2 separate regions of the Homo sapiens genome follow, and region 2 is linked to region 1. Evidence: fine-mapped expression QTL. A gene starts in region 1. The other region holds a variant in brackets. All regions are shown on one strand. Distances are from middle to middle. Region 1 holds the start of INPP5D (inositol polyphosphate-5-phosphatase D). Region 2 overlaps INPP5D (inositol polyphosphate-5-phosphatase D).

Region 1 (5,364 bases):
AGACTGCTCTTGTATGTGGAGGGCCAGGGTGCAATCATCATCAAATGGGATCTCAAGGTAGGAATGCAGTGATTATGGCCTAACACATTCAAGAGAATATGGCTGGAAGATGTGTGGTTCTACCTTTATGCTATAAAATTTGGAACAGTAATTTTTTTTTTTTTTTACTGTGTCGCTCTATCACCCAGGCTGGAGTGCAGTGGCACGATCTCGACTCACTGCAATCTTCGCCTCCTGGGTTCAAGTGATTATCCTGCTCAGCCTCCAAAGTAGCTGTAGCTGCGATTATAGGCACGTACCACACCCACCTGATTTTTTTTTTTTTTTTTTTTAGTAGAGACAGGGTTTCACCATGTTGGCCAGGCTGGTCTCAAACTCCTGACCTCAGGTGATCCACTCCCCTCAGCCTCCCAAAGTGCTGGGATTACAGGTGTTAGCCACTGTGCCTGGCCACTCTCTAGCCATTATTTGAAGTCTTCATTGATAAATCACTATCCCTCACATGAGTTTGTGAATTTTGTAATACGTTAAAATTATTTATATTGACTGGAGACCTACAAAAAAAAAAAATCCACCCACCAAAAGGGCAGCTCTGATCTAGATACTGGGATTTCCTGAATGTGGAGGGCAGAAGGGTGGGGGACAAGCCAGCTGACCATGCTGGATAGATCAGGCAATTGGGTGGAAAAGGAAGCAAAGTTGGGATGGGCCTTAAAAATGAGGGAAGAGTGCCCGTGTGGCGTGTGTGCCAGGGGATCTCACTCTGTGGAATGGCAAGGACCGTGGGAATAGAGGTGTGAGAGGTGGGGGGCTGGGGGTTTGGGGGAAGCTCTCTAAGTAGGGCAGTCTTGGCATGGTAGGGGTCTCTAGAGATGAGTGGGTGGAGGTGTAAAGGGACCAGTATTGCAAATGGATCCTCCTGGTGGCGTGGTCCAGGACTTCATGGATGTTGGTGGAGGCCAGCAGGGAAGTGAGAAGGGTGTGAAGGTACACAATGGGAGCATAGGAGATGACCCCATAAGGAGGGGGTGGACAGGTGCTGAGTGGAGGCGTGGGTGGGGAATGAGAGGCCTCCACACTGGGCTGCTGCAGAGGTGGCGTGCTGCGGAAGGGCCGGAGCATGGAGGCCAGTTCCCATCACCACTCTATCCCCACGCCTGGCTCCCAGCCTGGCCAGAGGTCCTTGACTGGGAGTGCTTTGTCTGCCCTACAGACTCGCCTGCCATGTGTGTTGCTCAGCGGGGAGGTGCTGGGGGCCCTGTTCTGGGACAACCATCAGTGTGACACATGTTGAGCCCCTGGGCACATGTGAGCTCTTTTACGAGCTACGTCCTTCAAGTTAGACAAGAAGAAACCAAGGCCGAGAGAGAGAAGAAACTTGACCAGGTTCCCACAGCTTGAATGTGGTGGCGCTGCCTGGCTGGTGCCCCTTCCTGGAGGGAGTCTGTTGTCATGTCCTGGAGGCCAAGGCCTGGATGTGGGATGGTGGGGGCACTCTTTGTGCAGCGGGTCAACACGTGCCCCTTCGGCCTTGGTGGGCCGGACCCAAGGACGGAAGGTGCCCAGGTCTGGGGGCTGAGGGATGGGTGTCCACCGCAGAGCCCTCAGAAATGACTGGTCCTGGATGGCGGTCCCTGGAGAGGCAGCTCCTCTTTGAGTGGTGGGCATATGTGGCCATGCCCAGTCTTGGAGGCGGTGCAGTCCGACCGGCCACCCCGACTGCTGAGACGCAGGACTCAGCACCCAGTGTTGTCCTTGGCCAGGCGGCCAGCCTGCCCTGTGGGGCTTTGGGGTTCTCCTCTCCGAGCTTGTTTCCCCAGCATCCTGGAGAAGCCCAGGGAAAAACCCAGCCTATGTTCCCGCTGTAAACGGCCCACATCCCCTCCAAGCTCCCTTTGTGTGTCTCCAAGCTGGACTGCAGGGATCAGAGCTGTGCTGCCCGTGCAGCACCCACCCGCCCCTGGGAATGAGGGTAATGGGGTCACAGAGCCATCACTTGGACCTTGGCGCCCTCGGCTGGTGGCAGCCAAGGTCTCCCAGCACCCAGGCCGCTGGGAGTCTCTAAAGGGGAGGGGTGGGGCTCGACTGTCCCCTCCCCCTCAAGTTTGCTCTGTCCTGGGCAGGCCGTAGTCCCAGTTGAGAAGCTGTGCCCCCTTGGGTGTTTTGGAGGTTCAGGGTGGGTGCTGAAAAGCCCTGAGGGAGAGCAGAAGGCTCGGGGGCCTGTCTAGGGCATGGCATCCCACGTGGGTGTCAGCACGGCCGCAGAAGAACCACTTCTCTGGCCCACCCATGCCTGCTAGGCCATGCTTCTTCAGAAGTGGCCACAACTCTCCTGACGTCTCCAGAGCCGGTCATTCCACCCAGGGGGACTTCAGCTGCCACTGGACACTTCAATTGTACGCTGCGACCAGTTGCCAGGAAGGAGAGGGCTGGCAAGAGAGCCGCGGCAGCCGTGGCAGGGTGTAGGGGACGGTGGACGGCCAGGGCCCCCCCCTCTCTCTCTTTCTCTCTCTCTCTCTTGCTTGGTTTCTGTAATGAGGAAGTTCTCCGCAGCTCAGTTTCCTTTCCCTCACTGAGCGCCTGAAACAGGAAGTCAGTCAGTTAAGCTGGTGGCAGCAGCCGAGGCCACCAAGAGGCAACGGGCGGCAGGTTGCAGTGGAGGGGCCTCCGCTCCCCTCGGTGGTGTGTGGGTCCTGGGGGTGCCTGCCGGCCCGGCCGAGGAGGCCCACGCCCACCATGGTCCCCTGCTGGAACCATGGCAACATCACCCGCTCCAAGGCGGAGGAGCTGCTTTCCAGGACAGGCAAGGACGGGAGCTTCCTCGTGCGTGCCAGCGAGTCCATCTCCCGGGCATACGCGCTCTGCGTGCTGTGAGTACAACCTGCTCCCTCCCCGGGCACAGATATGACAGAGGGGCTTAGAGGGGGCCCAGCTTTGAGATGGGTTGTTCTTATGTCACAGGACAGAGTGATCTGACATGCACACTTCCCCGCCACCCTGTCATGGACCTTGTCCTTGGAGTTCAGAGAGCTGGTCTCATGGCAGGTTTTGCAGCCTTGGAGCTGTCAGAACCACTCTGAGGCCTGATGTTACACCCCAGCTTCCCATGAGCTGTATGGACCTTGTGGCTTCCTTGGAGTCTGGGGACCGAGAGAAGGGAGTTTGGGCTTTTGGAGCCAGGAGGAAGCTCAGGGCTCTGTGGAGGTGGGTGTGTTAGAGATCAGCTCAAAGATGCCCAGCTCAGAAACCCTGAGAAGAGCAAAGGTGGCAAGGGGGACCCTTCCTGGAGCACCCAGGCTTCGGGCCCCTGGAGGAAGCTGTTGTTTGGCGAGCCAAGAATATGGGGTGAGTTTAATCAAGAAAGGACTTTCCATTCAGTCAGAAGCTGCTTTCAGGGGCCTGAGAGCAGAGGAAGTCACCATTACCACCAGCGAGCAGCCTCTTCTCTCTCCTGAGCACTTGGCTGTGACCGCTGCCCACCCCCCACCCCCTCAATTTGGGTCTCTGTCACCATCAACTCCTCCCACTGCCCGGTTGGGGATGTTACTGAATGTACCAGCTGTGCTAACAATGGAGGAACCAGCCACTTGCTGAAGGTTCCTTTCTAAAACCCCCTTCCTGTCCAGCGTCTGAAGGAGGCCCTTGCCCTGCAGCTCTCGGTCTAATCATAGGGGGGCCTTGCCCTGCAGCTCTTGGTCTAATCATTTTGCCGGGGCCTCAGGCAGTGCCGGAGTGTAGTCAGGGAAATGTGTGTCCACCTGAACATCTCAAGTAGCATCCCTGGGCTGGCAGAAATGTTCCCCCGAGCAGCCAGGGCCTTGTGCTTCTCCAGGCAGGAGGGGAATTGGGTGATGAACCCAGACCTGTTTTGAATACTGACTCACAGCTGGGACCTGTCGTGCTAAGCATTTGTTAGCCCATTTCATCCTCACCACAACCTAAAGTGAAGGTCCTGTTAAAAGCCCCACTTTGCAGATGAGAAATCTGAGGCCCTGGCAGGTTAAGTGAGTGACAACAGTCAAAGCCACGGCCATCTGCCCCCAGAGGCTGCAGCTGAGACCAGCAGCCTGTGGCCCAACCTCTCCTGCTCCCAGTCCAGCGGGGCAGGCATGTAGCCTTGCAGGGCTGGAGAAAGAAGCAAGGGGAGCCACAGTGTTTACAGGGTCAGCTGGGGCACTGGAAACCAAGCCAGGCTCGCAGCTGGTCGCTGGCCTGTGCTGACAGTCTGCAGCCCCACCTCCAAAGACTGGTTTCCTGTGTCCCCTCTCTCATGCCTCAGGGGAAGGAACGCAGGCCCAGGCTGCCTGGACTTCCCCAGTGGGGACCTGCTGCTGCCGGGGCCTTAGAAGGAGCAGGAAGATTCTCTTAGGCCTCTCACAAGCCCAGTCTGACTCCACCTGGCCCATGTGGGTTACTTGGATTTCTCTCCTGGCCCAGTGGGATCTTGTCCTGGCTGTTTGGTGTTGGCTGAGCCGAGGGCTTCCAGGGCCCCATCTCATTAACCTTCAACACAGCCCTTTGACCAGGGCTTGCTTTGTGGTTGCTCAGGTTACAGACATGGGGCGTGGGTCTCTCTGACTCCGAGCCGTGAGCATCTTAACGTCTAGGATTAGCCTGAGCCAGAGTCAGAGCTGGAGAGGCCTTGGAGAAGCTCTGGTGCAACAGCCCTGGCTTTTCAGGAGGTAGACAGAGGGCAGAGAGCCTGAGGCCTTTGTCCACCATGCTGGCTGGGGTCAAAACTGCTGGGATCCAGGCCAGTTCTCGTATTCCTTCCTCTACCTCTTCTCTCTGAACCCTTGTCTGCACTGAGTTCTCTCAGAGTCATGATGGGTGTGCAGTGTCTGCTCCTTAGAGAGGGACCTGTGGTGCCTACAGATGTCCACTATCCTCTCAGCCGAAGCCTCGTCAGCCTCCTATCCTGAGGCTGCTGGGCTGCAAACACCAGGAGTCCCACCCCTTGGCCAGACAAACCCTGGGCTCAGTGTTTCCCTTTCTCCTCTGCTCAGGGTGGGAAGCTTCCCTTCCTGCAGGGTCAGGCTCCACTGTAGGCCGTGGGTTGCTATGGACCTGCAGACTTTCCATACATCTGCAGGCTTCATATGGCTGCCACCCTGGATTTTGCCAATTACGGAGATTTTAAAACTAAAAACTAATTAAATGAATGATAACAAACTGTCATCTTCCAACACCTCATTTCTTGAAAGAAAGCAGCCTTTGACACCAAAAGAGGCAGGAAGGGCATTAAAAAAAAAAAAGCCAGTCATTTAAAGCAAAGAGATTGAACTTCTTGAAAAACAAACCCTACCACCCTTAGTTTTCTGTGTTCCCTGCAGAGTCGCCGTGGCCTGACGGAGACGGCAGAGG
Region 2 (5,364 bases), 110 kb after region 1:
CCTGCCACAGTAGAAGGGTGGGGCTGGCGTGGCTATCCTGGCTGCGCCCACGCCCTCCTGCTGCCCAGCAACCGCCCCGGGTGTGGATTCCATCGCTCCCTGGGCTTCCAGTCCCTCCCACCAGCCCCTGCCCCGCTGTGCAGAATATGCTCGGACCTCCTAGGGCCACATAAAACCACCCCCTCAGCCAGACCAGTTCCTGGTCATCCTGGCCTCAGGGCTGGGCACTGGGTCAGCTTCTGAGCAGGCAGGAGCTCTGCTCATGTGGACCTGACACACATTGCATGAGCAGACGGGAGGAAAAGAAGCCAGTTCCTGGGAGGGAGTGCACTGGCGAAGGAGTGTGTGGCGTGGGCAGAGAGCAGAGGTCAGGGGCCTCCCTGAGAAGGGCAGTGCGACTGGCATCTGAGGGGTGAGGAGAAAGGCCTGGCCAGAGTCCCAGCTTTATGACCATTGCAGGGCAGCTTCTGGGCTGTGCAGCTCACACACACCTTCCCCTCCTTCCCCTCCTTCCCCTCCTCTCTGCCCTGGGGCCAGCCTCCCTCCTCCACTCCCCTGAAATGGCTCCCAGCCATAATTAGCACAGGACAGAAACAGCAAATGCTGGTCGGTGTGGTAGGCTCACGCCTGTAATCCCAGCACTTTGGAAGGCCGAGGCCGGTGGATCACTTGAAGTCAGGAGTTCGAGACCAGCCTGGCCAACATGGTGAAATCCCATCCCACTAAAAATACAAAAATTAGTTGGATGTGGTGGTGCGCACCTGTAATCCCAGCTGCTTGGGAGGCTGAGGCAGGAGAATCGCTTGAACCCGAGAGGTGGAGGTTGCAGTGAGCTGAGATCATGCCACTGCACTCCAGCCTGGGTGACAGAGCGAGACTCTATCTCAAAAAAAAAAAAAAGTCCTTAGAACAACCAAGGCCTTTCTAAGAGTGTGCCCTAAGCAAGGCTGTGTGCTGAATGCTTTGAATCATCTCATTTGATATAAACACCCTGCTAGGCACGATGGCTCATGCCTATAATCCCACACTTTGGGAGGCCAAGGTGGGAGGACCTCCTGAGACCGGGAGTTTGAGACCAGCCTGGGCAACATAGGAAGGTACCATTTCTACAAAAAAAAAAAAAAAAAAAATGGCATAGTAGTGCATGCCTGTGGGCCCAGCTACTCAGGAGGCTGAGGTGGGAGGATCACTTAAATCTGGGAGGTCAAGGCTACAGAAAGCCATGATTTTGCCACTGCACTCCAGCCTGGGCGACACAGACTTTGTCTCAAATTAGAAAAAAAAATACAAACACTCGGGCAGGGACTCTTATTATTCCCATTTGCAGATGAAGAAACAGAGTCTATGGAGATGATCCATAACTTGCCCAAGGCCCCGGGATAAGAATGTGGTGGGCAGGGATTGAAACCAGGCTGTCGGGACTGGAACCAGTTGCTCAGTTCCAGGTCACCCTCCCAGGTTGCGGGCAGAGGGGCAGGGCTGGAGAGCTAGGTGCAGTGGAGAGGGCTGGAGGGCAGAAAGCCTGTGTACTCCCCCACTGGGTCCTGACAAGGTTGAGCCAGGTGATATCCAGGGGTCCCTTCAGCCTATGGCCTATCCAGAGCTGTCCAACCAAAAGAAAATGGGGCCGGGTGCCGTGGCTCACGCCTGTAATCCTAGCACTTTGGGAGGCTGAGGCAGGCAGATTGCCAGAGCTCAGTAGTTTGAGACCAACCTGGGCAACACGGTGAAACCTCGTCTCTACTAAAATACAAAAAATTAGCTGGGTGTGGTGGTGGGTGCCTGTAGTCCCAGCTACTCCTGAGGCAGAGACAGGAGAATTGCTTGAACCTGGGAGACGGAGGTTGCAGTAAGCAGAGATCGCGCCACTGCACTCCAGCCTGGGAGACAGAGTGAGACTCTGTCTCCAAAAAAAAAAAAAAAAAAAAGAAAGAAAGGAAGAAAAGAAAATGATGGGAGCCAAATAGATCATAAATAAATAGATTTATGATCAAAATAGATTACAATTTGATTTATTACAATCAATAGATCAAATTTTCTAGTAGCCACATTAAAAAGAAAACAAGTGAAATTAATTTCAATAATAGATTTTATTGAATTTCATACATCCAAAATACAATTATTTCAATAGATATTTAATGTAAAAGGTTATTAGATATTTTACAGTCTGTGTTTCTTACCAAGGCCACAATTCCAATGTGTATTTTACACTCACAACCTGTCTCATTTTGTACCAGCCACATTTCAGGTGTTTGATAGTCACATGTGGCCTGTGCCTGTATTGGACAGAGCAGGTTCTCACCTGCATGTGTCAGAATCACCTAGAGCAGGGGTTAACAAGCGTTTTCCATAGAAGGCCAGATGGTGAATATTCTAGGCTCTTTGGGCCACACAACTGTCACAATGCTTCAGCTCTGCCATCGTAGTCTGAAAGCAGCTACAGACAATCCAGAAGTCAATAGGCATGGCTGTGTTCCAGTAACGTGTTCTTTACGAACACTGAAATTTGAATTTCGTATTTTCATGAATGACAAAAGATGGTTTTTCTTTTGATTTGTTTCCAACCATTTACAAATGTAAAACCATTTGTAGCTGGCAGTGAGCCAGCATTTGCCCACCCCTGACACTGGAGGGCTTGTCAAACACAGATTACTGGGCCCCATCCCAGGATTTCAGATTCAGTAGGTCTGGGGTGGGGCTGAGAATCTGCCCTTCCATGAAGTTCCCAGGTGATGTGCAGCTGCTGGTCCAGGGAACTCCCTTTGGGAACCACTGACCTAGAATAGATCAGAACGTTGGCAGAAAAAGGTATGATCTCAGTGTGGGTTTTTGGTCTCCCCAGGAAACTTGAGTTCACTGGGAGGGAGATCAGCCCACCCAGGCTGGAACCTTCTGAATCTTCCCAGGGCTTCTGGCTGCCCGCTTAGCACCCTGGTCACTTTAGAGAGAGATGCCGGGGGAGGATCGCAGCAGCCACCTTCCTCTGCCCCGCCGAGAAGGCTGAGGCTGCCGCCATCTGCACTGCTCCTGCATTTTCTCATCTCCCGCTCTCTGCCCAGCGGCTCCCACCCTGCACGACCCTGTTTCGCCCATCCCTTGCCAGCTCCTCACTCACTGCCCCTCTCACCCTGCCTTCGGGTGATTTCTGGCCCCTTGGCAAGTGTGTCTGTTTGATATTTTGATTCTTCTTTCTGCTCTTCTTTTTAGGGAACAAGGGAGCCGTGGGGGTGTCGTTCATGTTCAATGGAACCTCCTTAGGGTTCGTCAACAGCCACTTGACTTCAGGAAGTGAAAAGAAACTCAGGTAATGGA[AC/A]TCCTTCCCCCCAAGAGTGTGCATTTGGGCTGTCTGCCCAGACACGCCTCACACCTTTAAGCACCAGAAGGACCTGCTCAGCTCCTGCCTTTGACCTTGTGGATGTCCTGTGGCCTTTCAGGGCCCACCACAGTCTCATCAAAGGCAACTGCAGCACCATAGTGACCTCACGTGTGGAGGAATTTTGTCTGAAGGTCAGAAAAGATATTTCCTTGTGTCATTAGCCTGATGGACCGCTAACTAGCACTGTTTCTAAAGCAGAAAGCCTCCTCTGGGGCCTCCTTACAAATCCAAGCTGATCTTGCCTAGCTGGGGCCCAGGAATGAAGACAGCCATCTAGAATCTTCACTGTTCTGATTCTCTGCTGAGCAGATGCTGCTGCTCCTGGTCCCCTGCCCTCTGTACACCCAATGTGGCCTCAAATGCCCTTTGCATCCTGGCTGTGCCATATTTGCACACTAAGGAGTTCTGCTGCAGCAGGGCTGGAGGGCTAAGTCTCACTTCCCCCCACCTGCTATGCTCCTCGCCCCACACCTATGGCAGGAGTGACTTCCTGCCACAGTGGAGGGGGAACCAGTGACCCCGTGCTAGATGGCCGCTTTTTCCTTGCATTAGGCGAAACCAAAACTATATGAACATTCTCCGGTTCCTGGCCCTGGGCGACAAGAAGCTGAGTCCCTTTAACATCACTCACCGCTTCACGCACCTCTTCTGGTTTGGGGATCTTAACTACCGTGTGGATCTGCCTACCTGGGTAAGGGCTGCCCGCCTGGGGCTGGGGCTGGGGCTGTATGAGATGGAGGCTCCCTTGAGTCAGCTTGGGGCAGGTGGTCGTGGAGACATGTGAATCAAGTGGGCTGAGGCGGCTGCTCCCCTTGGGGGCTCAACGCTGTTTCCATTACTGAGCCTCAGCCGCTCCTCACGGTTCCCCTGTGCTCACACCCGGTTCCCATAACTGTCACAGCCACCCTGCCACCATCACTCTGCAGCCCGGGTCATCCAGCTGCCCGCCCCCAGCCCCGAAGCTTGTCAGGCCTGGATCAGCAGGGCTTCTCACCAGAGGCCCGGGCATGTTCTTGTTCCAGGAGGCAGAAACCATCATCCAGAAAATCAAGCAGCAGCAGTACGCAGACCTCCTGTCCCACGACCAGCTGCTCACAGAGAGGAGGGAGCAGAAGGTCTTCCTACACTTCGGTAAGAGCAGCAACCCCGGCTGGGAGCGGTGGCTCACACCTGTAATCCCAGCACTTTAGGAGGCCGAGGCGGGCGGATCACGAGATCAGGAGATGGAGACCATCCTGGCTAACACAGTGAAACCCCGTCTCTACTTAAAAAAATACAAAAAATTAGCCGGGTGTGGTGGCGGGTGCCTGTAGTCCCAGCTACTTGGGAGGCTGAGGCAGGAGGATGGTGTGAACCAGGGAGGCAGAGCTTGCAGTGAGCCAAGATCGCGCCACTGCACTCCAGCCTGGCCAACAAAGACAGACTCCGTCTCAAAAAAAAAAAAAAAAAAAGCAGCAGCCTCTCCTCTTGGAGCCTTTCCAGCCATCCTTTCGTCCCCTTTCCCCTGATTTCCTACCAGAAGAATAGGGAAAATTGGCCAGATGCAAAACCTGGGGAATCAGAATTAAAACGAAAGTCTCTCTGTTTCAGAGGAGGAAGAAATCACGTTTGCCCCAACCTACCGTTTTGAGAGACTGACTCGGGACAAATACGCCTACACCAAGCAGAAAGCGACAGGGGTGAGTCCTCTTCATAGACACCTTCCCTGCCCTCCATCTCCTCCCCGCTGGTGTCTGTTCCCAAAAGGTGAACAGAAAGTGTCTTCATCCATTAGGCAAAAAAAAAAGGAAAGAAAAAAATTAGAAAGCACATGTTGATTTGTGTTACAGAGTAAATGGGAAGCCACACTTGTGCACTGCTTTGAGCTGGGAAAATAACCCTTGTGATTTACCTTCTGTCCAGATACTCTAAGATGCTGAGAGGACTTTAAAGTATTATTTCCTTAACTGGGTTCTGAAGATCATTTTTTTAAAGTCCCGTGATCAAAT

What was found. PIP is the estimated chance that this variant, and not a neighbour inherited with it, causes the effect.
Region 2: its variant is fine-mapped to the expression of INPP5D in whole blood (TOPMed, PIP above 0.99).

The regions. Positions count from the first base shown.
Region 1 is chr2:233,057,743-233,063,106 of GRCh38, forward strand. It overlaps INPP5D (inositol polyphosphate-5-phosphatase D), which reads left to right and starts at 2,600. Exons shown (of 27, transcript NM_001017915.3): 1 at 2,600-2,870. The coding sequence starts at 2,737. RefSeq lists enhancers at 2,275-2,554, 3,155-3,244, 4,331-4,924, 4,925-5,364 and silencers at 2,755-2,834, 4,905-4,954.
Region 2 is chr2:233,166,098-233,171,461 of GRCh38, forward strand. INPP5D (inositol polyphosphate-5-phosphatase D) reads left to right here. Exons shown (of 27, transcript NM_001017915.3): 14 at 3,208-3,304; 15 at 3,929-4,067; 16 at 4,399-4,507; 17 at 4,967-5,055. Among named protein-coding and RNA genes, the nearest start is that of ATG16L1, 83 kb to the right of the region's middle. The variant AC/A (reference allele first, on the strand shown) is at 3,313.